7 linked regions of the Homo sapiens genome follow. The protein of the gene in region 1 interacts with the protein of each later gene in a biochemical or structural test. Each region holds a gene or a part of one and is shown in the gene's direction. Other genes may lie near its edges.

Evidence for each region.
Region 2: the proteins of STX1A (region 1) and STXBP5 form a complex in vitro, tested with the Homo sapiens proteins (2 studies listed by BioGRID).
Region 3: the proteins of STX1A (region 1) and SYTL4 form a complex in vitro, tested with the Homo sapiens proteins (one study listed by BioGRID).
Region 4: the proteins of STX1A (region 1) and SLC6A3 form a complex in vitro, tested with the Homo sapiens proteins (one study listed by BioGRID).
Region 5: the proteins of STX1A (region 1) and VAMP7 form a complex in vitro, tested with the Homo sapiens proteins (one study listed by BioGRID).
Region 6: the proteins of STX1A (region 1) and KCNB1 form a complex in vitro, tested with the Homo sapiens proteins (one study listed by BioGRID).
Region 7: the proteins of STX1A (region 1) and TXLNA form a complex in vitro, tested with the Homo sapiens proteins (one study listed by BioGRID).

What each region holds. Positions count from the first base shown.
Region 1 is NC_000007.14:73,709,670-73,713,169, reverse strand, and holds part of STX1A (syntaxin-1A), read left to right. Parts: intron 1-1,772; exon of another isoform or gene 1,773-1,853; intron 1,854-3,500. UniProt on the Homo sapiens protein: Plays an essential role in hormone and neurotransmitter calcium-dependent exocytosis and endocytosis.
Region 2 is NC_000006.12:147,207,417-147,210,916, forward strand, and holds part of STXBP5 (syntaxin-binding protein 5), read left to right. Parts: intron 1-3,500. UniProt on the Homo sapiens protein: Plays a regulatory role in calcium-dependent exocytosis and neurotransmitter release. Inhibits membrane fusion between transport vesicles and the plasma membrane.
Region 3 is NC_000023.11:100,729,322-100,733,610, reverse strand, and holds the start of SYTL4 (synaptotagmin-like protein 4), read left to right. Parts: upstream 1-1,489; 5' UTR 1,490-1,607; intron 1,608-2,076; exon of another isoform or gene 2,077-2,105; 5' UTR 2,106-2,193; intron 2,194-4,289. UniProt on the Homo sapiens protein: Modulates exocytosis of dense-core granules and secretion of hormones in the pancreas and the pituitary. Interacts with vesicles containing negatively charged phospholipids in a Ca(2+)-independent manner.
Region 4 is NC_000005.10:1,438,941-1,442,440, reverse strand, and holds part of SLC6A3 (sodium-dependent dopamine transporter), read left to right. Parts: intron 1-950; coding exon 951-1,082; intron 1,083-3,500. UniProt on the Homo sapiens protein: Mediates sodium- and chloride-dependent transport of dopamine. Also mediates sodium- and chloride-dependent transport of norepinephrine (also known as noradrenaline). Regulator of light-dependent retinal hyaloid vessel regression, downstream of OPN5 signaling.
Region 5 is NC_000023.11:155,940,345-155,944,269, forward strand, and holds the end of VAMP7 (vesicle-associated membrane protein 7), read left to right. Parts: intron 1-1,538; coding exon 1,539-1,607; coding exon of another isoform or gene 1,608-1,795; 3' UTR 1,796-3,425; downstream 3,426-3,925. UniProt on the Homo sapiens protein: Involved in the targeting and/or fusion of transport vesicles to their target membrane during transport of proteins from the early endosome to the lysosome. Required for heterotypic fusion of late endosomes with lysosomes and homotypic lysosomal fusion.
Region 6 is NC_000020.11:49,363,377-49,367,668, reverse strand, and holds the end of KCNB1 (potassium voltage-gated channel subfamily B member 1), read left to right. Parts: 3' UTR 1-3,792; downstream 3,793-4,292. UniProt on the Homo sapiens protein: Voltage-gated potassium channel that mediates transmembrane potassium transport in excitable membranes, primarily in the brain, but also in the pancreas and cardiovascular system.
Region 7 is NC_000001.11:32,178,327-32,182,474, forward strand, and holds the start of TXLNA (alpha-taxilin), read left to right. Parts: upstream 1-1,348; 5' UTR 1,349-1,450; intron 1,451-1,738; exon of another isoform or gene 1,739-1,987; 5' UTR 1,988-2,019; coding exon 2,020-2,188; intron 2,189-2,915; coding exon 2,916-3,251; coding exon of another isoform or gene 3,252-3,350; intron 3,351-4,148. UniProt on the Homo sapiens protein: May be involved in intracellular vesicle traffic and potentially in calcium-dependent exocytosis in neuroendocrine cells.

The sequences.
Region 1 (3,500 bases):
AGAGCCAGGAGCCATCAGAATCCCACAAACTGAAATAAGCATCAGAACAAATGAAGAAATGAAACAGGAAGAAGGTCCTTCACTCGAACCCCAAATCCACTCCACAGACAGTGGTTGGGAAGGGCTTGGGGCTTTTCTTGACAGGAAATGCTACATGATCACTTATCTGATTCCTGGCTGTATTACTAGAGGTAGATCATATAGAAAGAGGGAGGGGATGGGCCAGATCTTTGGCATTGCCCAGACCACAGTCAGCAGCAGATTCAGTTTGTGTGCTGTATGACAGGAGACAGAGGCACAGTGGAACAACTCTTGGGCAGGGGCTGTAATTTGGGGTCCCTGGGAAGGATCTGAAAGGGAAGGAATACTTAAAAAGAAAAATCTAGGGAGGATGTGGATGCCGCCTTCAAATCTATAGCAGGGGTACCCCAGGGAGAGGGCACCCACAGGTTCTTTATGGCCTGGAACCAAACCACAGGGAAGAGAAGGACTCTAACAGTTGGGGCTGCCCGAGATGGGCAGAGCTGTCTGGGGAAGCTAGTGAGCTCACTGTCACAGGAGGTTTGCAAGCTGAGGCTGGCAGCTGAAGCCAGGGGGACTTTTCAGGTCCCTTAGGGCCTGAGAGTTTTCAGCCATGGCTCCAATAGGAATGTGAATGGCGTGTGGAAGAACAAGGTGCGAGATACTGATTTGGGGGGGCAGGGAGGCTTCTGGAAGGAGGTGGCATCGAGGAAGAAGGGAATGTCACCTTCATGGAATCAGCATCCCGGGCAAAGGGATGTGCCTGGGGGAAGTTGGGGGCAGAGGGTGGATTGTAGGGCCAGGAACCAGTTGTAGGTGTGGGGGAGTGGGGTCTGATCCCAGGGGAGGGCAGCAGGATAAAGAGCAGAGCTGGGGGTGAAAATTCCCAAGAACGAAGAAGTAGAAGGACGTGGGGAGGAAAGGCCCACTTCGCCCATCCCCTCTAGGTTTTGCTTGGAGCTGTGGCTGGTTTGACCATGCCTCAGAGGTCAGGCCCTCAGCCCCCCGACTGGCTTTGGGGCCAATCTCAATGCCACCTCCAGGGTAGACTTGACCTGCGTGCCCCCATCTACCCTGGCCCTGATCTCCCTTTCCCCAGCCCTACCCTCATAGACGGAGGGTCCAGAGGAGGATGCGGGCATCTCTCCTCCCAGCCCTTCTGTTAGAGAAGCTTCCTGGTCCAGCCTTCAGCCTTCTGGGAAGGTAGCAGGTCAGAGCTGGCCGGATGCCTGGAGAAGATCTGCCCTCATTACACAGATGGGCAAGCTGAGGTCAAGAGAGGCACCAGACAGGTGCCAGGGGTCTCTGAGGGCAGGACAGGGGTTCGGTGGGGCTGGCAGTGACGCTCGTCTCTGGCCACGGAAAAGGAGCTGGATAATTCTCCATCCACCCTTTGTCATCTACCCTGATCCTCTGAGCACCAGGGCAGAGAGGGCAGGACACTGAATGGCAGGAGCTCCTGGGGCCACTTCCCAACCTGGCAGCCTGCCCAGGAGGAGGAACTGGGCTCCTCCTGGCAGTGCTCTGCCTCAGTTTCCCTAGGGAGGGCTCCTCTGACTCAACTCCTAGGCCTGTCACGGTCTAAAAGCGTGAAAACGGCTCCTGGATTTTCTGTGTCTGTAGGGAGCTTGGTGGGGGAGGGGGTACCACCTGGTGACAGCCCCAGGCACTCGGTGGGGAGTGGGAACGAGGATTTATTTTAGCTGCTGGGGAGGTGGTACGATATCTTAAAGAGAGGAGGCCCCTCTGAGCCGCCTCTATCAAAGCTCCTAACTACCCCCTCTCCCCATGAGTCCCCACTTTGATGGGGTGATGTGAGCCCCTCACAGAACATGCTCAGGCCGGGCATGGTGGCGGCTCACACCTATACTCCCAGCACTTTGGGAAGCCAAGGTGGGAAGATCACTTGAGCCCAAGAGTTTGAGACCAGACTGGGCAACATAGTTTGACCCTGTCGCTACAAAAAAAAAAAAAAAATCAAAAAGTAGCTGGGTGTGGTGGCATGCATCTGATGCATCTGTAGTCCCAGCTGCTTGGGAGGCTGAAGTGAAAGGATGGCTTGAGCCCGGGAGGTTGAGGCTACAGGGAGTTATGATTGTGCCACTGCACTCCAGCCTGGGTGACAGAGCGAGACCCTGTCTCAATCAATCAATCAGTCCATCCATCAATCAAACAAACATACCTGCCCTGCTTCCCCACTTTTTCTCAGCCCTCCCTCCATGCAGCCAGGTGTCACTGTCCCCATTTCACAGAAGAGTAAATAGAGCCAGAGGGGTTAAGGCCCAGCCTGATGAGTCCCATCAGTTCTCTCAGCCCCTCAACCTCCACCTGCCTCCGTCCTGACGCGAGAGCACCGAGGTGGGGTCAGTGCTGAGCTAGTCAGTGGCCACTCCCGTGAGGCACTCAGAAATGAGGTGGGAACAAGATCAGATGTGGTGGTTCACGCCTGTAATCCCAGTACTTTGGGAGGCCGAGGCGGGTGGATCACCTGAGGTCAGGAGTTCGAGACCGGCCTGGCCAACATAGTGAAACCTGTCTCTACTAAAAATACAAAAATTAGCTGGGCATGGTGGCATGCACCTGTAATCCCAGCTACTCGGGAGGCTGAGGCAGGAGAATTGCTTGAACCCAGGAGGTGGAGGTTGCAGTGAGCCAAGATCACACCACTGCACTCCAGCCTAGGTGACAGTGCGAGACTCTCTCAAAAAATAAAAAAATAAAAATAAAAGAGGTGGGAACAAGCCCTGAGCCCCAGGCTGAGAGACCTCAGTCCCTGCCCCAGGGTGGCCACCCCGGATATCCTTGCCTTGGCTGCAGAGAGAGACCTGGCCTTGCCAGCAGCGTGGGCTGACCCTGGCCAACTGGCGGTATGAGGCAGACAGTAATAATTGTGCGCAGCATGCTGGGAAGTCAGAAGTATGATTACCCCTGCCCCACGATGGGGGTGGCTTTTGTACAGCTGGTCCTGGGACAGTGGAGTGGGGCTTGTAACTGTGGCTGAGGCCTAAGGCAGGACCCAAGCCAAGTGGCAACATGACTGTCCCCTTGTGCCTGCTGGGCCCAGGTCTGGGGACTGGAAGGAGGCAGACCGAGGTCCAATGGCAAGACCGACAGGGAGGCCAAGTGCAGTGGCTCACACCTACAATCCCAGTGCTTTGGAAGGCTGAGGCAGGAGGATCGCTTGAGGCCAGGAGTTCAAGACCAGCCTGGGTAACACAGTGAGACCCCCGTCTCTACAAAAATAAAAATTAAATTTAAAAACTGTTTTAAAAAAAGACTCACAGGAGATTCCTAAGAGATCTGATCCGTGCCACCTCGGGACTGGGGTTTAGTGGTGCCCAGGGCTGGGACACAGTAGGCAGGTCTCCCCTTATAGGGCCCACTCTGGAAAGGGAGCTTGGGACCTCTGGGCTCCACCTGAATTAAAACCACTGGAGCCAGGCATGGTTGTGGAAACCTATAATTCCAGCTACTCGGGA
Region 2 (3,500 bases), on another chromosome or scaffold:
GTTAATTTCTGAGACGGTGTGTCTGAAGTGCTCTTGCCCAAATATCTAGATAGTTATGACCAGAATGTTTTTTGGCTTCAATTGTTAGATATTTTTATTCCTGAACTCAGTGATCAAGACCATCTAGTTTAGGGTTGTGTGAAGACGGGAATGAAGTTATTTTGTCAGTGTGGGCCCTGAGTGTTCAGCAAAACTCTGTAGTGACGAGACTAGTACAGCGTTGGATCTAGATGCATTCTTTGGAACTGAAAGCAGTTTCTTTTTTTTCCCAACAAGATAATTTCATAACTGGACTAGAAGAAGGAAAGTAAAGTTGAATTAAATCAGCTATTTTTCCCTTATTTTGCTTTTCTGTAAAATGAGTTTAGGTTTTATTGTTTTCCCAGTGTGGTCTCGACATTCTTTTGGTAAATAACCTCTTTTCCTTGTAACATCCAATCTGGCCCTTTTATAATTTAGTATAATTATAAGTGAGTACCACCAGCAAGGCTGATTTTATAAAACCAGATTCTTAGACAACACTTTTACCCTAATGCATTTGTGTAATTAGCAAGTTGGCACAAAAGGTGTAAAGCGTTAGGCCTAGTGTGAATTGCCAATTAAAATCAAGGATCAGGTGGCCAAAATTGTCACTTGTATATAACTTTTGGTGTACTTTCTATAGTTAAATATTATGTGAATAAAAGTGAACCTGTAATTATAGTTTGCAATTATACTCTAAAGTTTTTTTTTAGAACCTCCTTACTAAGAATGAAGTATGGAAAACTGTTTACTAAATTACCTTCTACTTTGCCTTTTTATGAGATTTCTATGGACATTCCAGAGTGCTAAATTGGCTTGCTTGCCAGTAATACCACCTAGTCATTCCTTCTGTTGGGTTTAAGTAGCAGATGAGCTTATGAGCTTTATTTATTATGGTTCTGATTTATAGAAAATGACTAAGCCCTTTTTATTTTATCTCATTTTCCATATATGTGCTTTCAGGTATATGTTAGTGTCTCTTTCTTTGTTATTTTTGAAACTGGACACCTAAATTCCGAATCTCCACATTTGGTTAACGTGCAGATTTACTACAAGTGTGTATATTTTGACTTGGATCTTTTGTATATTTTCCTATTGTAATTGGTTTCTTTTGATCCTTTATTCTCTTCTTGTATTAGACTCTTGTAGTCTGTAACACAGTTATCCTAAAAGATATCATTAGAGCAGAAAATAGACTTCTAGATAAAGTATTTTCCTTGCAGATTGAAAAGTAGGCGATGTTTTCAGAAGTAAGATTAGGCTATTACAATTCCAAATGTGTATGTAATTTGACTGATGAATATCTTCCTAAATGTTAGAAGACTTTACTAAATTGATTTATCTACTCTGGGTTAAAACCAAAAAATCAAAGAAGAAAGATATATCTGATAGCTAATGTTTGTAGACAAGGATTAGTGAAAAATCTTAATCCTTTAATAATACATAACAAATTATGAGGCAAAATAAATTAAATGTATTTACTACATTAATGTATAGCAAATGACATATGATATAAATATGCTGAATGCTAAACCTTCTTGGCTTCTGGAGAGAATATGAGATTGAAGAATGAAGGTATTTTTAATAATGTTACTGTCTTTATCTAGACTTCTGATTTACTACTAAAATTTCAAATTGCTTCATACTTTAATCATGGGTTACCCTGATCTTATTTTTAAAGTAAATTTTTTTTCTAAACACAATGAGGTCATTATATATATGAATATTTCAAGGACTGAGCAGAAAAATGGAATTTCAGGTTTACTGAACTTGTGTAAAAATTTGAGGTTTAAAAATGAATTGTCAAATTATTATCGAAGAACCTCATTCATTGTCTTCTTGACTGGTGGAAAATACAGTGAAATAGACAATCTCTGTTTTGATGAGGCATGGATTGTCTTTTAATGCAGAGTAATGTTGCTGGAGACAGGCTTACAAAGTGATTTTTTTACCTTACAGTTGATTTAACAAGCACTTGAGTGTCAGACAACATTAGATTATAAATTGTGGCCTGAATTCTGGTTCTTCGCTTTCCACTAAATAATTACATGTCCTTGAATTAGTTTTTTTTTTCCTTACTATAAAAATGAAGGTGCAGTATTAAATGATTTCTTCAAGGAAGAATTTTATGATTTCAAGTAGCTATGTATTCTAGAGGAGTAATACAAAAGAAATGAAAATGTGATCCTTCCTTCAAAAAGTTTCCAGTTCTAACCAAAGGACTGGAACTAAATAAGCAGTTGAAATTTGAGAATTATTTGGGGCTCTACTGACATTACACAAAGTCAGGTTACATGTAAATTTGTTGCATTTGATGAACATTTCTATACATTGGTAGATAAGTATTCAGAATGACAGGGAGGAAGGAGTGGGAAAATTATTCTAGGCAAGGAAAACAGTATGGGCAAAAGCATGGAAAAGGGAATTATGCGAGTTTGGAGGAATACTAATGAGGCTAGTTGGAATAATTGAGTTAGCAGGAGAAATAAGGAGGCTGTTGAGGGTCTGCAATTTTAACCTGAGGTATCTGCATGATATTCAGTTAGGAATCATAGTTATGTAATAGGAGATGCTGACAGGAAGAAAGCATGATTTTTTAGCATGATTAGTGGAGTAGTGGTATAGGTGAAAAGAATGGACCAAGTGAACTTCACAGAAAATTATTAATCCATATAGGTAGTAAAGTGAATCCAAAACAGGGGTGGCAGAATGGGAATTGGAGAAGGGCTTGACTTGTTTGTATAAAATCTTAGGGAGTAACTAAAGATGATAAGGTTTTGCAAGTAAAGTAATGAGGCAATTACAAGCGAAGTGAAAAACTTGGCAAAGAAGTGGCAGAGAAATGTTGAGTTTGAAATTATGTTATCTTTAACTTTTATTGTATTATCATTTTGGGAGAGTAGCCTAGACTTCTTATTTTAGTGTGAGAATTTGATATACTTTCACTGTTTTGTTTTGGTTTTTTTTGGCTGGTCCTTGGTGATTTCCAGAATTTTGTTACTGAATTTATATTTAAGGTCATTAGTAGCTGTTTGGCATTGTCCATTTATTTTCTGTCAGTGTTTCTCAAAGTGGTAGCTTTTTGGGCAGAATAATTCTGTGGGTTTGTCCAGCACATTGCAGGATATTTAATATCCCCGTCTCCCACCTACTAAATGCCCATGTTGCCTCCCCTGTCAGTGTGGCAACCCAGACCCTCCAACACACTTCCAGGTGCCCCTGGTTGAGAACCACTGCATTTAGCCCAAGTTCTTCACCAGTTAAATAAGAATAATAACCCTACCTAGCTTGTGAGGTTATTGTCACGATTAAATCTAATAAAATGTGTGTGTGTAGCTTTTACGATCATGAAGGGATATTGTGGTGGATACATGATTATTACATTATTATTATAATACATGATTATTATTAATATGAGAGTTTTTCTGTGGCTTTAATTTTCAGGTCCTTCATTTCTCTCAGCGAATACTGAGTGGCAA
Region 3 (4,289 bases), on another chromosome or scaffold:
AATGGTGAATCCATTGCCTTGAGTGGCATGTTGTCATTTACTGATATAAGAAATACTGGAGGAGGAACAAATTTAAGAGAAAAGATGGTAGGTTTAACTTTGGATGTGTTGAATTTGAGGTGTCTGCAGGACATTCAAGTGGAGATGTCAAGAACACAGAACTCAATAAAGCAGTCTGGGTAGAGTTATAGAATTAGAGTTGTGACCATATATATGGTAATTAAAGCCAAGTGAGTGAAAAAGATTATTTGGGGGAGGGAGTATATGTATCCTAGCCCTGAGAATGTCTGACTTTCAGAGGTCAGATAGCAGAAGAGTGGCCTACAAAGGTCACTGAGGAGAGGGCAAAGGAGTAGGAGGAAAAGCAAAAGAGTAAAATGTCATAGATGCCATAGAAAGTTTCAAGGACGAGGAAATGGTTAACGGTGTTAAATGTAGGGGAGAAGTCAAGCAAAATAAGGACCAAAAATACCTTACTTATTTATGGATTTATTGACACTGAGGGTCATTGTTTGTGTATCTCATTGAGAAGTTTCAGTGGGGGAAGGAAGCCAGACTGCTGAGAGCTAAGAAATGAATGAGAAGTAAGGGAATAAAAATTGCAATTTCACCTGTGAAGTACATTTTCAATACATTTGCCCATAAAGAGGACCTGAAGAGGGACCTCCTGTGTAGGGAGGTTCTTTTTTTAAGATGGTAGATACTTGAGCATGTTTAATTGCTGATGTGAAATGAGGGGGAGAGGGATGGGAGAGGCAGGGAGAGGAATCTGCAATTACTGGGTAGGTATAAACATTTTCAAGTCTATTGATACATATTGCTCACGTGCTTTCTAAAAGGGTTTTTAACCAACATATGCTGCTATCAGCAATTAAGACAGCTTGTTTGGTGGCTACTTTGTCATCATTAAGTGTTATTAAAAAATAAAAAATATCTTTGCCAAAGAATCTCATTATTGTTCTAATTTGCTTTTCTTTGATTACTAGTGAGTTGGATATTTTAACCAGTTGTGTCCTTGAGTGTGTATGTATGAATTTAGTCTACGCTTTTGCCCAAAACGTTTCTATTTTAGACAGACATTTATTTGCCATAAAAGGCCACAAGTCAAAGGATCAGAATGGTATTATATTTTATTTACTCAAATTAGATAGTTCATACTCTTTTATCTTCTTAGAAGTGTGAGACAATTTGACAACTTTTGACTCAGCTGAACGAAAGAGACAGGTGATTTCACCGTCTAAGAGAGTGACCAACAGATGGAAGTAAGTGGGTGAGGAGGCACGTCTAGTGTTAGACCCCTATCCTCAGTCCCCAGGCTCCCATTCCTAACCTGGAAGGACATTCCTCTTGTGTCTCAAGGCTTTGGGTCCCAGAGCTCCCTTTTGGGCTGAGTGGCCCCCTGCTAAGGAGCCCGGGGCGCTGTGCGGCCCCTTTAAGAGTCCAGCTCCTCCCCGCTCCAGGGAAAGTTGCAGCTTTTTCCGCCTCCCGGGAGGGTGAGAAGGGCCGGCTGCCGGAGCTGGGTTGCGATCTTCCCGGAGCCGGAGACCCTCCCTTGAAACCGGCACTGGGACTTCTCGATCTCTGGAGGCACCTGTTGCAAGTGACAGGTAGGTCAACAGCCAGCGGCCGGCCCCTCGCCCTCGGTCCGGTGCTCCTTCTGGACCCCCAGCTCCTTTTCGCTGCTGAAGCGCCCCCACCCCCATCTCGGGGTCGTGCGTCTTCCCTACCCGCTCTCTGGTCCCCCAATTTTTCCTTCTCCCTAGCTGACCGCGTCTCCCCTCTCCCCGTCCGCCTCTCCCGACCGCATCCCCAGGCTTGGACTCCCGTCTGCTTGGGCGGTCCCTCCCGGCCACTTTTCTTTCTCCAGGGCTTCTTCTGGCCCCTTCCCTGACCCACCCAGCACTAATGCGGTCTGTGCCCCTCTGGGAGCCGCCTCCCCTCTCCTCTTCGGCTCCCCTCGCGGGGAGTGCCCGGGCTTTTTCCCGCCAGCCCGAGCTGGTGCCCCTCCCGAGAGCTGGCCCTGGGGGCGGGGGCGGGGCCGAGCTCCTAGCGGGAACTGCGCCCTCCAAGGCGTCCAGTCACCTTTTCGTGGGTTCCTCTCACAGCGCTCGGCCGTCGAGCGGGGTCGCTAACCCGCACTCTCTTCGGACCTACGACATCGCGGCTTCTCTGGCGTTGGCCAGTCAGCCACAGGTAAAGGCTGGAGGCTGGTTGGCTGGAGTCCTGCCTCAGTGGGCTCCCTCTGCGCTTGGGGCTGGGGACCTGGCTGTGTGCTGTGGAGCTGCTTTATATTGCCGCTCTTCAAGCAGGCTGTGAGAGATCTGGTACTGGAGGAGGGTCCCCGAGATCTCAGAAGGGGCACAGAATGCTTCTGTCTCCTGTGTTGGTTTGTAATGGGGCAGAAAAAGGTGTTCCTCCAACCCTTAACATTGAATGAGGTGGGATTTGGGGTGGTGAAATCATTTGGTTAGAATTCTGGTGGCTTGAAAAGTGGTGACTTTCTAATCAAGCTTTTCTTCCCCCAGTACCCTGCTTCTTCAGGATTAGAGGACGTAAAATTCCAGAGTACTGTGCTTGGCAGGGTTGACCCTAGACCTTGTATATTTGTGGCAAAAATGAGTCTTCTGTACATCCTGGACCTCCTATATTTAACTGGCTTATTTTCTGCTCTTTAAGCTCCCCACCCCCACCTCTCATAAATCTATTAATATTGAGGTATTAATGACTTAAGACTTTTGTCGCTGTGGGAACAATGTTTAATGCAGAGACGTGGCCTTGATGAAGTTTTCTGCGTTTTTGGTTGTTTGGTTTTTAGCACCCTAGTAGAAAAGCACCACCAACTTGGCTTGTGAGGCCCTTTTTGGGCAGAGGATGAACATTTCTGGTAACACAATTTCAGGTGTCTCACTCTTGGTCAGAGCAGTGAAATGGAGCTGGAGGCCTGTTCTGGGGTAATTGATCTGTGAGTATATGTAGCATTCTGGCTCTCTGAGCTTGTTAGGCTCTGGTTGTTAGGCTCCATTGAGCTGGACACTGTGATAAGTTCTTTACATAAAAATGCAATCCTCACAATAACTCTATACAGTAGGTGCTACAGTTATAACCATATTATGATGAAAAAGAGACTGAGAAGTTAAGTGCCTTGCCCTCAAAATCTCGGAGGCAGAGCTTGTGTTCCTATCCTGTCACACCACCTCTGTTGTCTTAGATGTTGGGAACACTGAATAGCTCATGGATGAGGACTAAGTGATTAAAAAATTGTCTTCCAAGCCCAAGTATATGTTTTTCTCCTTGCTTCCACCTTAGATGCACTGCCGAGACTATGGACTACTTACCTTACTGATGTCTTACCCACTTCATTTCCAACATGGGCCAGTTGCCACGTTACCACTATAAGTACACATCCCTGAGTGTAATTAGATGAATGAAATCTCCCGGGTTTTCAGCTCTGTGGTAATTGTCCTGAAGTTAGGGGAGGGTAACCCTGGATTCTAGGGATGTGTGCCTGACTCAACTTCTTCCTCTCCTGCTGGCTAGGGGAGAAATGAGGGAGTGGTAAGTGATATGGATTTCCTGACAGCCATACCAGAGAGCCTGAGGGTGATCGTGTGCTAGTTTTGTCATGGGATGGATGGAGTACCATAGACAAGGATAGGAAGAAAATGTCCTCCCTATTCCCATCTCTGGGACTTTGCTCAAACTGTTCCTTTTTTTCTTCCTAAAAAGCTAACTTTCCTCCCTCATTCCCCCTCCCCTGACATTAATTCCTATCCATCCCTCAAGATTGAGTTCTAAAGTCACCTCCTTTGGAACGGCCTTACTGAACACATACTTCTTCCCCCAAGCAGAATTGCCAGTTATCCTGTGTCCTAAAGCACTTTGTTTACACCTCAGTAAAGCCCTTAACACTGCTTAGTTGTTTTTCCACCTGGAAGGCTGTAAGTTCTCTAAGGGCAAGGTCTGGATCTCGGAGCTCCCTTTGTCTTAAATATAAGATGTTGGCAAATATTTGTGCCAGTAACCGGACATACCATGCCATTCCTTCAAGGGGCTGAGGTGTAGTGATGGTGGGGTTGAGGTACAGAAGACACCTTCCTGAGGCACTTGAAATACCACAGCTAGGAATTTGCCCTGACCACCCTATTTAAACGTGTAATCCCTTCCCTGAACATTCCATATGCCCTTTCCCTACCTTATTACATTGTTCTTGCTTATTGTCTGCCCTCCCACTCCCTCACCCACCATAACATAAACACCCTGTGGGCAGGGATTGCTGTCTGTTGTATTCA
Region 4 (3,500 bases), on another chromosome or scaffold:
AGCGAAGATCGAGGCAGGGCCACCGGGGACGTCCAAGAACATTGGTGATCCCTTCCCAGGAGCCTCTTTGGGCCTCCCAGCCTCCCTGCCTGGCCTCCCTCATTGGCCTCTATGCTAGGTCTGGGAAGGGAGGCCTGGGGAAGAATCTGGGGGGAAGCCTCACAGGATGCCTGCGAGGAGGCTGGCATTTTTATGCCCATCTTGAAGAGGGGAAGACAGAGGCCTCAGCAGGTACAGGAAGTTGCCCAAAGACAGAGCTGAGGGGCCCCATGCCTCCCCCTCCCCTTCCCCAGGAGAGAGAGTGGCAAAGCTCTCCCTCACTCCAGTCAGACCAGGGGAGCAGAGGGAATTTAGGAGGTTGAGACCAGGGTTCCCTGGGCTTTGTGCTGGGGGTGGGGGAGGTGCAGGTTTCAGAGGAACTAGGCCTTACCCTGGAGGGGCTCCCAGCACCTGGGGCAGCAAAGACCCTCAGCCACAGTCAATAGGGGCAGCCTCTGAGGGCCCCAGAAGCTGGGGACAGGACGGCAGGGCCCACTCAGCTCAGGGGCAGAGTTGGGGGGTCACAGATTCACAACTCAAGAGGCAAAGAGGATCAGGGCAAAGTGGGGGGACGCAGGCCAGGGAAGGGCACCCCGAACCACCACGGGGAAGGATAGTACCTAGAGCACCGCTGAGCATGGGCAGGGCCTCCCTGTGCTGCTCTTGGGTTTGACTTCATGGCTCGAGGTGCGCAATGACAAGGGGATCCAGGAGGGACGTGTCAGGCACTGACAGCAGTGGAGGGCGGGCTTCGGGACTCATCTACCCTAGCCTGGGACTTCCCGTTGGAGAGTGGGGTGAAACGGTCGGGCCAGGACATGGATGGTTGACTGGGGTAGCCGCCCAAGCTCCCACGAGGAGAGATGGGCCCTTCCGAGGCCCCAAACTAAAGGTGCTTTTCTGCCCCACAGGTGCCTTCCTGGTCCCCTACCTGCTCTTCATGGTCATTGCTGGGATGCCACTTTTCTACATGGAGCTGGCCCTCGGCCAGTTCAACAGGGAAGGGGCCGCTGGTGTCTGGAAGATCTGCCCCATACTGAAAGGTAATATGCGGGTGCCTCCCTTCACCCTGGCGCAGCGCGGATCATGGTGGTGACGCTGGAGCTTTCAAAGCAAGCCAGCCGCATCATGGGCATCCAGCCCTGCTTTGCTAAGACACAGGCATGGCACACGCCACTTGAACTTGGGTCCCACCTTAAAGATCTGCAGTGACAAGGACTGGATAGTTCATTCCCTTGCTCTAGGTGAGGGTCCTGCAATTCATTTGTGGTGTTACTTTGTCAAGATGCTAAAATGTAGTTAAGATAAAACACATGTCTATCTATGGATCTGCCATCTACCTATCATCCATCGGTCCATCCGTCAATCATCTGTTATCTATCTATCCATTATCTATCTTTATTATTGGTCTTTATATCAATCATTCACCCATCTATCTACCTATCTACCTAATCCATCCATCTATCATCATCATCTATCTGTATCTGTTTCCTGTGGCTGCTGTAACAAATGACACAAACTGGGAGGCTTAAAAGGCACACGTTTATTGTCTCACAGCTCTGGAGGCTGGAAGTCCAAGATCAAGGTGTCTGTAGGGTTGATTTCTTCTGAGGCTGTGAGGAAGCATCTGTTCTAGCCTCTCTCCTTGTCTCAGAGATTGTCTTCTCCCTGTGCCTCTTTATACTTCTTGCTTCTATGCATATCTCTGTAACCAAATTCCCCGTTTTTATGAGGCCAGAAGTCCTGTTGGATTAGGGACACCCTAATGACCTCACTTTAACTTGATCACCTCTGTAAAGACCTTGTCTCTAAATAAAGTCACATTCTGAGGTTTGCGGGGTTAGAACTTCAACAGATGAACTTGGGGGAGGGACACATCCCACAATTCTATCTATCTATTATCTGTCAATCATCTATTCACCCGTCTGTCATCTACCCATTCATCCATCTATTTTCTTTTGATCCATCCACCTATCAATCCATTCATCCACCCATCCAGTCATCCATCCATTCATCTATCTATGGATCTATCATCCATCCATCCATCCATCCATCCATTATCTATTGATCCATCCATCTACCTATCGATCCATCTATCTATCCATCCATCCATTCATTCATCCATTCATCTATCTATGGATCTATCCATCCATCCATCTTCTATCTATTCATCTATCCATTCATCCATCTGTTATCCATTGTTCCATCCATCCATCCATTCATCTATGTATGGATTAATCCATCCATCCACCTATCGACCTATCCACCTATCTACTAGCTATTGATCCATCTAGTTGTCACTGAACCTTTCCGGCTGCTGATGTCCTGCTCTGGCACCATGAAATGGACACACCTCGTGTTGAGTGCAGGTGGCCTGCCCAGCACCAAGCCCTCTCCCAGCATTTCTGACTCCATCTTCATGAGACCCTGGGAAGGGCACACACTAGGTCTCTGTGTTGGAGATGCAGATGCTGAGGACCAGAGGGCCGGGGTCGTTCCCCCTGGTGTCCCCATCAGAGCAGAGTGGGATTTGATCCCAGACGTTTCTGACTCCCCAATCCCTGCACGCAGGTCACACTTGCCCAGTGGGCCAAAGCCACCTCTCAGGGGCTGGTGGTTCAGGGAGGATTCAGGCATTTACTCAGAGGCACCACTCAGAAAATTGGCATTAAGAAAATGACTACTAGAAGGTCAGCCTCTGGATACTCATAGAAGTTCTGGAAAAGCTGTGTGTTTAGAAGACAGCCGAGCCCAGCACGGCCCCAGGACGCATTACCAATGGGTCAGGGGTGGGCCTTCAGAGGCGAGCCGCTGACCTCCCTTAGGAGAGGGAACAGATGGCATTTCACAGCTGCTGAGGTCAGGCTCCAGGAGGAGAAGTCAGTCTCGCAGCCGTGGAAATGCTGAGACTGGACAGGTGTGATGGTTCTTCCCAGGCACGAGACTCATTCGTTCTTAATGGGCTGCTTAGTGAATCTTATGACTTCAGTAATTTCTTCCTGGGCTCCACATTCACTGGACTGCACTGAAATGGAGCTACAAAAAGAGGCCTCCCTCCCCACCCCCACCCCCACCCCCACCCCACACACATCTTCAGAGTGAGAGACAGATGCTTTGGGCATGCACTGGTGCCAGACGACCCCTTGGCGGGATCTGCAGGTAGAAGTCAAACCGTACAAGAATTGCTCAGAACATGCCTCCGTCCCCGTCGTCAGGTCCCTGATATCAGGTCCCCAATGGAAGAATGCAGCAGCCAACGGAAGACCCAGGCCTGTTGTTACAGACAGACAGGGGCGCGTGTCAAATCCGGCGTTGCAGTGAACCCAGGCTAACAGTTCAAGACACACGCGTTACCTGTGTCCTGCCTGGCCCTGGCCAGCGGCACGGACGTGTTTCAGAGAGGAGTGCTGCCTCTGAGCCTGCAGTCGTAAGCGATGCTGAGCTTGCACCGTGGTCCGTGT
Region 5 (3,925 bases), on another chromosome or scaffold:
CAAGCAGATAACTCTGACCCTGCTTCTCCTCTACCACAGCTTGAGGGTCCTCTGCCTTAGACAGCTGGATTTATCTAAAAGAGAAGAGCAGTCATAGATCTGTAGATTTTATACTGGAAGTAATTGTCATGGCCTTGAATGGTTCCTTGCTCAGGTTTCTCTTTCTAATATCACATTTTAGGCTCCTGAGCTTAGCTTCTTACTTATTATTTGGTCTGGGAGTTTAGGTTGATTTGTGCAGCTGAATTGTTAAATTCAGAATATATTTACTGATTACTTATTACATGCAGAGCACAGCTCTAAATGCAATATCAATCTTTGCGAAAAGGTGTTGTCACCTAACGAGATGTACTTCAGCTTGAAAAATCCTTATATTACAGCTGTGACAAATAGTCAACTTTACATCAAGTTGGTAAACTTTACATTTGTGGCATGTGTATGTGTGAGTATGTGTGTGTATGTGTGAATATGATGTCAGAAGTTCAACCTATTCATTAATAAACAGAATTTGCTGTAATCTGCCCCCCAACCCTGGCAATATTTATAGTTCCCTACAAGGCAAAATGCTTTGCTCACTTTTGGAGCAAAGGGCATGCAATTCATCAATGCATCCTTTTCCAAGCTTGCAAATAATGAAATCAGTCACTTAAAGATCTCAAAAAGTTGTAATTTAAAGCAAAATAAAGCCAGGCATAGGGGCTTATGCCTGTAATCCCAGCACTTTGGGAAGCTGAGGCAGGAGGATTGCTTGAGGCCAAGAGTTTGAAGCCAGCCTGGTCAACATAGTGACACCCTATCTCTACAAAAATAAAAAATAAAAAATAAATAAAATAAAGTGACTAATGCAGTGAACCTAATGTTTAAAATCTATTTTTTGTGATATAATAATGTGAACAAGTAGTGACTTTTATAATATAATTTAAAATTATAATCTAGAATTAAAAAGCAAACACATCTGTAATAGCACCAGTATTTTTGCAGTGTTACTTACATCATCTGCTTTTCATTGTTTTGGTCATCGTAATTATTGTGTCATTATCCACTGAACAGTTCGTAGCAGTGTTCTTGCTCATAAGTGATATAGATGAAAGCCTTCTACTCAGGCTTTTAAAATATATTCTTATATTAATCAAAAATAAAATTCATGTGCAAAACCTAAAAATATAATTAATGAAACCATACTTCAGGAGAATTATGGTTATTTGTGATTTTTTTATGACTTGTTAATGACACATCAGTATGAGTTGCTCATTTAGCCTTGATTCTGCCGAGTTACCAGTGAAGAGCAACAACCCCACTGCTTTCTCTCCCACTGAAGGAAACGCTAGAGTTCAAGTGGGTGTGAGTTATACCAAAAACGACAATGTTAACTACACTTCTGTCTTGGAAAATACTTGTTTAGTGTGTTCCATTACTACATAACTGCTACTCTAATGGAATCAGAAGTATTTCTTAATAAGGCTCTACTTTCCTATATATATTATTTAGAATAATATGATTGATTCAAGAAAATAAAATTGCTCTCCTCGTCCCTCCAGGTGTTCATCTATATCATTGTTTCACCTCTCTGTGGTGGATTTACATGGCCAAGCTGTGTGAAGAAATAGGAAAGAAGAAGTTACCATTAACCAAGGATATGAGAGAACAAGGAGTTAAAAGCAATCCATGTGACTCAAGCCTTTCACATACTGACAGATGGTATCTGCCAGTCTCTTCAACCCTCTTCTCACTTTTTAAAATCTTGTTCCATGCCTCCAGGTTTATCTTTGTCTTATCTACCAGTTTATTCCTGTGAACTTCAGATTGAACCATTCATTGCAGCAGTAGCCTTAAAAAGGCTTTTGTTTATTTCTTTGGTTTGTTAACTAGTGTCATCTATTTAGAGAAACATTTTTGTTTTTAATTGCTCAAAGCTGTCGCCGCTAGTCTTATGAGCTATCTACTAAAACTATGGAGAAACTTTGTATGTGCACACAAAAGTATTCAAGAGACAGTATTGCTAACATCTCATCTTAATGTCTTTTGTTATTGAGAAGTTTTAGGTGCTTCAAAACAATATAAATGGATAATAGTTGTTATTTGGGGAATTGTAATGATGTTGGTGCTGCTTCCTTCTAAGAGCTCAGACAAGTAAAGTATGAAACATTCTTATTTCAGTTAGATGGGGAACATTTTGCTAGCCCATTAGAAGCACACAGAATTATCCTTGTCCTCCTAATATTGACTTTCAGGAATAAAGTTCAGTGTGCTGATCATTCACAATACAGTGGATAGCTTGATATCTTCTGTTTTCCCATTGCAGTTGATTTGAGAAGATGAAGGTTTAAATATTGTTGAAAGTTGCAGTTTTTTAAATGTGTTCCTTTTTCTTCTGTGAATATTTAGGGCAATCGTGTCGCTAATAGAATATGTAGTAGAGGGGGTGGGGAGGTAAATTCCTCTGACTTGCCAAAGAAAAAGAAGGGAACCACAGTGGATATGCTAGCATTTTAGCTGTGCAAAGGGAGGTAGTGTGGGAAAAGTGTTTCCATTCTGGGAAAAGCCCAAACCGAATACGGTCAGCAGTCAACTCCAGGGTTTGGGCTTGATTCCTGTTGAATAATAGTTTTGAGCATTCTTTGTGGTTAAATAAATTCTTAAATCTGCCTAGTTTTGATGAATTCTTTTGTGAAACTTGAAAGAGAATAGACAGTATGACATATAGAATTAATACAAAACAGTTTAACAACCATTTAACTGCAGTGTAAGAAAATTGGACTGTAATCATATCGCTACTGGCATCTGTTATCTAGTATGCATTTCTGGTGTGTATCTGAAAGGAAGACATTTTCTACCCTAGATCCAATTGCATTTATTTATCAATAAGTGCCATTAAATTGAAATTATATTACATTTTACACTTTCTCAATGAATGAACAAATTAGTCTGTAGAATCTAGCCACCTGTTTAGCCTAGTCATGTGCCTTGAACATATATGTGTCCCATAATCTGGCTCATGGTACCTGTTCTTCTATCCAAACCTTTCAATTCATGCTACCTGATTCATTTATTTGACATAGATCTTAGGCCCACTTGAACTCTTTTCTTGTTTATCTAGCATAGCACAAACGTTTTTCCAGTCTTCTTTATCAACACTAATGCCTCTTAATTGCATCAGTATTTCCTATTGGAAAATACATCTGTTCCAGAAAAACATTTGGCATTCCTGAATAATTTCCAAATGTTTTTAATCCAAAGAAAAAGGTTTAAAGCTTATTTCCCTTTCTTATACACACCTGAATAAAATTGATGTGCATGTTTTAGGGATCAATTACCTAACTGTTCCTTGGTCTATTTATGTATAAGAATGCTTTTTAAAGCACATGTCTCATTTTAAATGACGCACAAACTGAAGATGTTAATAAAATTTAAGAGTAATACAATGATTTGCTTGTTTTAGAAGTTCTTTCTGGAACCTAATTTCTTCTGATGACATTTGCCATTGTTTACAGAACAAAAGTATTTTACTTATGCGGAAAATATATTAAGAAGTGTTACCTGGAGACTTCCAGTAAAGATCTGTAGCATAGTCTCAGGTGTGTAGAATTTCTTCAAAAGACACAAATGAACTTAAAAAATATATAGCCCATGCTGAAACCAATGAAAGATTCTGAGATGATCACACAGCCTTCACAACTATCGTCCTGAGTGCATGATTTAGACAGAACTGAAAAAGAACCCCAGGGATTTTCATCCAGTTTAGCACAATTCTGAAAAATCTTTCTATCTAAAGTTAAATGACTGGTTCTGAAAGAGACTCAAGCGGAAGGCATAATGGTGGGAGGGAATAATTCATTATAGCAAACAGGGTACCTAAACAGAAATAAAAGAAAAACAGGCACAAATCAAATATACAAATAGATAGGTCACAACAAAATAATCAGTC
Region 6 (4,292 bases), on another chromosome or scaffold:
CTCCTGAGTAACTGGGATTACAAGAGCGCACCATCACGCCCAGCTAATTTTTGTATTTTTAGTAGAGGCAGAGTTTCTCCATGTTGGCCAGGCTGGTCTTGAACTCCTGACCTCAGGTGATCTGCCTGCCTCGGCCTCCCAGTGCTAGGATTACAGGTGTGAGCCACCACTGCACCCAGTCCATTTCAATCCATTTCTAACAGCTTCACCAAAAAACAGTGGCCAGACACCCTTGCAGCCAAACCCTGAGAAGAGATGTCCCCGAATCTGCTAGCTCATCTCCCCTTCCCTTGCCAGCTGCCTGGCTCCATAGAGCAGGAGGTGTGTGGCAAGGACAGGGGCAGTTTTCCAGCTTCCACCTATCCACGCCTGGGGGAGTTTTTGGACTGTCCTGATAATTAATTCCAGAGGCAGTTTTCAGTCCTGGGTGGGCGGAGGACATCTCACTAGGCAGGATCTTCAGCAGAAAGTGATTCTCCATCCGTCAACTCATGCAGGAAGATGAAGAAAGCCCAGATAATCTCCAACTTGCATTCGTTTAGGTTTTGGTATACCACCCACCTCACTGTCAGCTGCAGGGCTTGGGGCTCTGCCTAGAATCAGAAATTTGAGCCAAACTGGGACCCTCAGATGGCAGTGAGCCATCCCATCAGATAACTCCCAAGAGGAAGCCAACTCAAATATGAATTTTATTATTCTGGACTATGACCCTGATCAGAGTTCTCCCACCCCGAAAACCTCTGATAGTCTGGTTTGAACCAGAGTCAAATAAAACAGACAAGATTTTTTTTTCCTCTGCACAAAAGCAAAAAAACAAAACAAAAAAAAGTCTGCCAGTAGTTTCCTGGGTTTGATGCCCAGATAAGCAAACACTGTTGCCTATGGCTGTTGCTGTTTTCATCAAGAAAGAGGTTATATAGTTTGCATTTCCATCCACTCTCCCTGATTTTATCTTAACCTAGAATTTCTCCTGAACTACCCCAAATGCCAACTTGAATTTGGGTAGGGCTCTGTTAATCGAGGGAACCCTCATCTTCACTTATAAACCTAATTCTCTGTTCCTCCCTCCAAAGATCCTGAAAAGATCTCCTAAAGGCTGGCCAGGATGGGGTGGAGTGGGGCAGTGCACCTGAAGAAAAAAACTTAGCTGCCAGCTGGCTGTATGCAAGTTCTCCGAAAATTTCTATTGTATGAAAGGGATGGGGTCAATTGCAGCTCAAATTAAGGAAGCCCTCCTAACAGGCTGGGTTGTCTGACCATGGAGCTCAATGCCATGGTGGACAGTGAGCTCCCTTATATCACAGGTGTTTAAAGAGAGGCTGGCTAGATGGTGTAAAAAATGGGCATTGCAGAGGGGCCCTAGCATTGCATGGAAACTGGGCTGAACAACCACAGAAATTCCTCTTTGTTTCTTGGAGTGTGTGTGTGTGTGTGTGTGTGTGTGTGTGTGTGTGTGTGTGTAGGTGGTTTCAACACTCTGGATATAAGCTCAAGCCACTGAGGCAAAGGCATGCAGCACAATTAGCAGGAATGCAACTTCTGGGCTTTGGAGCTCTCAGAGGGGGTGTCCAAGAGACAAGTCTGCTTCCTTCCGGCTCCGTCTTGGAACATTTTAATGACTGTCAGTCACCAATCCAACCCATCCCCAGTGGCCTACCAGGCACCACATTGGGATGAGACTCATGCTACCCTTCCCCAGGCCAGCCAAGGAGCAATCCACGCTGTCCCCCATCCCTGGCTGGCTGTCTTATGGTGCTTCAGCCCCTCCGCCCAGCTCCTGTGCCCTCATGAGCCTGGGGCTTTCTGTATAAAAGATGCAATGATATCTGTTCCCCACTAGCCATCCCCACAATGAACAACTTCCCAGGCAATAGCAAATGGCTCCATTCCAAAAGGGCTTGTTTTTTTGGTAAATCAAATAAGAGACCCCACTCAAGACCTTTGAAAGTCCCCGTCAATGAAAAAAATCCAGAAGGGTCAAAAGAGAAAGGCAGCTTTTAATCCAGTTTCACAGCAAAACCAGGCTCTTGGCTGCCTCCAAGCAGAATGCCACTCTCCTGCAGCTGTGGCCTCCATCCCAAATCATCCTGCATACTGCATTCTCTAAGGAAAGCATTTGACAAGAGAGGGTTTATGTATGGTGGATTGGGAGAAAGTGAGACTTCAACCTCAGGGTGAACCGAAGACTGGTTTGTCTTTGGTTGTTTTAGTATGAGGTTGGGCAGGATGATATGTTTGGATGGGTAGAATGAGCAGCCGCCTTCCTCTGAAACCAAAATAAAATAAAAACCAGTTTTCAAGATTCCTCCCAACTCCTCACTGGAGGCTCTGCCCTGCAGAATCACTCAAGTTGCAACAACACAAGGAGACAAAAATAGGATATTTCATGAAAATATAAGAAACTCCCAATTCCGTCCCATTAGGATGCCCTCAAGGGGCCATGCAGGGATCTTCCCATACTTCCTGCTTCCCTGATCTGAACCAAGATTGGAAAGAGGCAGGCAGCAGAGAAGATGCCCAAGAAACTCTGACATATCCACAGCTTGGCTCTGCCCCTTGGGCTTCACTGGGGTTTGGGCCTCCCTCTTGGTTGAGCTGAGTGTGCCTGAGTGGGTGGGGACAGGGAGGATTCTCCAGGTCTATCTTGATTTCATAGGTCCTTCTCAATCCAAGGTCAAAAACTGAGAATCTTATTTTCTGCACCAGGAACTCAGGGTTATCCCCAACCTATGCCGCTGGCACATGATGGTCATCCAACCTGTGTTTTTGTGAGTGAGTGAATGTGTGACTGGTTGGCCTCTGAGTGGATGACTGGATGCGTGAATGTGTGAGTGAATGGGGGAGTTAATGAATCCCTACCTAACTGTGAAGAGAAGAAAAATGAGGAGCCCCTCTCCCACTGAAACCCATAACTGCCCCATCAAGGTCATCTTTCTTTGACTCAAGATGACATCTCAATTTGATGCTTGTAGGCCCCAAGCTGATAAGGGCCACAGCCCTCTCAGAGCCACACTTCCTGGGGGCCCACAGAGCAGCTCTGCCCTCCTTCCTCTTCCCCTACCCTGCATTTCTCAGCCTCATGTTCTATTTTAGCTCACACACGACCCATGGGGGGGACCACCAAGTGGTTTTCCAATGGACTAAGCCAAGGGTTCGAAGTTGGGACTTCCTTTGGTCTGGGACTTCCTGGGGCAGAAACATAGGAGCCAACATCTGGAAACTGGATTGCATTCCCTGAGCCATGGGAGTCCAGCTGGATATTAAGGCCAGCCTGCCCTCCAGCTTTTAGAGCCGAAGATCTTTTTTTCTGAGCCCCAAAGCCGTCATGATAGTATGCCCCCAGATCCCATCAGCTAAGACCCTGTCTCTCCCAGGAACCCGTCGTGTGAGGTTGGGGCTTTTCTGCCAGTAAAGCCATTCTGATCACCTCACCCTTGACAGGGGCCAAGCCAATCACATTAGCCATAAATGACCAATGTCCTCAGCCACTCTTTTCTCGGGGGTGCATTCGTGGGTCCTATTCATCTCTCGTCAGTTAATGTCTCTAGTCCTTCCTGTAAAGGTGAAAATAAGCATTGCGCATGTGCGCAACACACACGCACACACACACACACACACACACACACAAATCCCAGTGTCTTTTTATGCATGTGGTGAGATGAAATTGTGATCTTTGTGTGACCTCCAGCTGCTGTCTTGTCTTGTAAAATATGTCCAAATGTTTAAGAATTTCTAAGCAAATGGTCCCTTAATGAAGTCTGCAGAGTTCAATAAAAGGTATGGAAAAAACAAGCCTGGAGGAGTTTATTTTTTGGAGGGCACAGGGAGGCGAGATGGGAAGCGCTGTAAGGGGACTTGAATCAGGAATCCTGTCTCCAGGCGGCATCAGCTTTCTCTCTTCCCCCCAGAAGAGGGAGGACATGAAAATATAACTGGCTTTTCACCCCCACTATGCAACCCAGTGGTAACCCATCCTACATGATATTCATGAATCAAAGTTCCAACTCTGGTCATTTAGTTCTCATGTCAACTATGCCTGGGCATCTCATTAAAAACTGTCTCACAATAGAAGGCATAAGCTCAAATGACTACTGGGGCAGAGCAGGTAACATAAATGAGTAAAGCAACTTAACTAAGAGACTTAAGGGGGTGGTGGTGAGTGTGATAAAAAACAGAACACACACCCTGTCTAAAGGGGTGAACACCATTCATCTCCAGCTGGTTGTTACCCCATAGGGATGTGGGCCCAGCAATATTAGATCTTTCTAAGAGAAGTCAGAAATCTGGATTTT
Region 7 (4,148 bases), on another chromosome or scaffold:
TGAAATCCAACATGCACGGCTCTGAAGTCTTTCACTGAGCCTTTGGGGGAAATATTTAACATCCTAACAGCCCTAAACCAACGCTCAATTAGCACAACAGTTTACAATCTTCTCTACCCACAGCCTGATGCGAGGCTCTGGGACTAGACTATTTAGCCAACAGTTCTTGCAAAATTAACTGACTTATAAGTAAATAGTAATTTCAACACCTCACTGCTAATGCTGTAACAACTCTGCAGACCTAGGGAGCAAGTACGGTTTGCAGAGCACTGGGAAGGCTCTGAAGTGACCTTTGAACTGGGCCTCAAAAAATTTTGGGTTTGGCAAAAGTCAAATCTCTTAGGCTTCAAATTCCAGGCACAAGGATTGTTGGGTTTGATTTCATTATCCAGAAGCAATGGGGATACAGAATTGTGATCTCATGTGTAGGGAACTGTGGGGGTTTTTTCTACTTTAACCCCAGTGAGACTTTGTAGAGTGTGGGGTAGAGAAAAGGCTCATGAATATGCCTGAAGCCTAACTCAGCACCTTTCTGAGGAACTGACTGCCAAAATGGTAATGGAGAGGGGAAAATATGACCTACTTTCACAAGTTACCTTGACTGCCTCAGGGAAACCTGCTGTGGTAGTGTTTCTTCTGGGTGAAAGACCAGGTAATTACCTGGGTGCTGGTCTCAGACTTACCAGTTTTGAATCCCTGTTTTAACCACTCACTATCGATATGACCTTGGATAAGTTACCTAACCTTTCTCTTACTGTCCTTTTCCGTAAAATGGGGATAACAGATAGTAGTTATTTCTATGAGTGGTTATGAGAACCAAGCTATTAGATAGCGGGAAAGCACACAGTAAGCGTTCAAGGAACTGCTATTGTTATTAAAAGCCTCCTTTGGAAGAAGGACATTGAGGCCCAGAGAGAGAACAGAACGTCCAGCCACACAGCAAATCCGTGATGAAGTTGGGACTGGAGTATGGGTCTCCTGAGTCTCAGCCCAGGACTCTATCCCTCTTCCCGAGTCCTCGGAGTTCCCGGATGGAGTCACATTTGTTCACGGCCAGGGAGGAAGGTTTGATGGAGGCCTGCAGGAAACAACAGCCAGGCGCAAGGCTTTGGGAGTTGAAGCATAGCTTCTGCGAGATAGAAACAAGGTTGACATGGGCACTCGTGCAGAATGACGGGCTCCTTTTGGACTCCCAGGACTACAGTCCCTTATGCACCTTGGGATCTGCGGCTAGCCCCTGCGTAAAGAGGGACGCGTAGTCTTTTCCCTGCCCCGCCCTGCCGGGGCGCCCGCCTCCGAGGCCGCCCTCGCTTCGTCCTTCCCAGCAAGCTCCGCGCCGGCGCCGGCTATTGATTGGCTGAGGCGGGAGCAGGCGGCTGGCCGGCAGCAGTTACTCGGGGTTTCCGGTGCGAGGCCAGAGGTGGGGAAGCCATCGGACGTCGGCGGTGAGGTACGTGCAGCGGCGGCCGGTGGGCGAGACTATTTGAGAGTGTGCGGGCCGGGATGTTCTCGGCCTGTGGGGAAATCACGCCAACTCCCCGCGTGGGCCGGGGGCTGTCTGGGGATATGCGCATGCGCGGGCGTGCCTCGCGGCTTGAGGGCGCGCGGGGCGTGGGTGGCTGCGCGCGCGGGGGGCGCACGTGGGGCCTGAGGGGCGGGGGCGGTGCCGGGAGTCCCGCCACGTCAGTCTCCGGCCCTGAGCCAATCCCGCGCCCGGCCTGCCGCGAGGGGGCCGGTTGTGCCGGGAAGTGGCTCCAGGGAGAAGAGGCCTCTTCCCTCACCCGCTGTGGGAGCTGCGCCCCGAAAGCCTGCCCCGGCACGTCGGGCTCTCCTGACCCGCCAAGACCAGAGAGCCGTTGGCGCCCTCCGCCCGGGCCTGCCGGTCCGTTTATTTTAAGAAGCTTTGTGCGCCTGCTGTGGGGATTTCTGATCCAGGCTGCGAAGAATTTCGAAGTCTGGAAAATAGCAACTGTGTTTGTTTCTAAAGGATCTTCTCCTGACCCAGCATCGCTCATCACAATGAAGAACCAAGACAAAAAGAACGGGGCTGCCAAACAATCCAATCCAAAAAGCAGCCCAGGACAACCGGAAGCAGGACCCGAGGGAGCCCAGGAGCGGCCCAGCCAGGCGGCTCCTGCAGTAGAAGCAGAAGGTCCCGGCAGCAGCCAGGCTCCTCGGAAGCCGGAGGGTGTGTGCCAGCTCTGCGTTGCCAGCGGGCAGGGGGAGGAGCTGTGGGGTCGGCCTCGCTTCTGGACTTACAGGCCGAGGCCAGGTTGTCCGGGAGGAGGAGATGTAGAATGAGAGGACAGTGCTGGGGGCCGCGGTCCCCCCTGCGCTCTGGCGAGTTGGCGGAGCTGCCCCCTCTAAGCACAGGAACAGAGTTCTGGAGAGAAGCTCCGACGGGATTAAGTCAGGTGGCAGCCAAACGAGGCACCCAGTCAGGAAATCCAGGTCCCGTTAGAAACACCTCAGCCACCAGCAGCTAACTGCCCTTCCTGTTTGAGGCATTTCTAGAATGATCTGAATGGCAAGAAATGGTTTTGTGGGGGGGAAGGAGATGGACTAGAAGTTGCTCCGTGCCATCCCTGTGTGCTGATGCTTTACATACTTTTATGATCTAACAAATATGTTCGGGTGGTAGTGAGAAATAGTTGTGTCATTTTACAAGTAAACAGACTTAAAGAAGTTAGGCAACGATTACTATAATTTCTTGATTTAAAAGATGTTTCGAATCTAAATTCTGACAGGAACTAGATTTGCTGAATGATACTCCATTCTTGCTTCTCAGTTTCCATAAAAAAAAAAGTTAGGCAACATTTAACTCAAACTGATGAGTTTGGCTGGGCCTGAAAAATCCCAACCAGTGGTATAATCGTCTTCTTTCTCACTCTACCCCTCATCCTCTCCTGCTGTAGGGGCTCAAGCCAGAACGGCTCAGTCTGGGGCCCTTCGTGATGTCTCTGAGGAGCTGAGCCGCCAACTGGAAGACATACTGAGCACATACTGTGTGGACAATAACCAGGGGGGCCCCGGCGAGGATGGGGCACAGGGTGAGCCGGCTGAACCCGAAGATGCAGAGAAGTCCCGGACCTATGTGGCAAGGAATGGGGAGCCTGAACCAACTCCAGTAGTCAATGGAGAGAAGGAACCCTCCAAGGGGGATCCAAACACAGAAGAGATCCGGCAGAGTGACGAGGTCGGAGACCGAGACCATCGAAGGCCACAGGAGAAGAAAAAAGCCAAGGGTTTGGGTGAGCAGAGGGCGGCTCTTTGTGAAGCTGGTGAGGAGAGGGAGTTTGGACTTGACGTTCTCTGGGCCAGTCTGTTCTGCCAGGATTCAAAGGAAAACGGTACTTCTCAGAGCAGCAAGTCACTCTAGTCTAATCAAAGCCAGGGATGTGGGGGCCACGGCATAGAGAGATGCAGGAGTTACCAGCACAAAGCCTTCTGGGTTTTGGAGCAACTGGAGCTTGGCATGGGACCTGTTCTCTCTTTGAGAAAATGGAGACGGGAGGCTAGGGTAGGCTCCTGTGCCAGCCAGTACTACCTGCTGTGTGACCTTGGGTGTGTCCCTTCTCCTCTCTGGGTCTTAGTTTATATTTCTCTTTACAGTAAGAAAATTAGACTAGGCCAGAGTTGAAAACCCAAATATCTGCATAAGCTGGGCTGGCCATGGGGCCACCTGAAGATGGAGGCTTTACTGCTTCCTGATTAGTTGCTCTCAGCTAGCCAACTGAGAGCAGGCAAAACTACAGGCTGGGTGCAGTCAGGCTTTTTTTTTTTTTTTTTTTTTTTAAATAAAGAAAAGCCAGAAATCTAGAGTTATGTGAGAACTCTAGATTTTTTCATAGTTAGCAGCTAAAATGGTAAGAGCCAAACAAAACCCATCCGTGGGTTGGATTTGGCACACATGCCTGCGAATTGCAGTCTCCATGCTGATCTCTTGGGCCCTTCTGGGGAGGCAGAGGGAAGGCTCCCTGACTCAGTCACAGGCAATGGGGAATAGGCAGTGACAGTCATTTTACAGCAGGGTATGTATGTTTAAGAGTCTAGGCCGGGTGTGGTGGCTCACGCCTGTAATTGCAGCACTTTGGGAGGCCGAGGCGGGTGGATCACCTGAGGGTCAGGAGTTCGAGAACAGCCTGGCC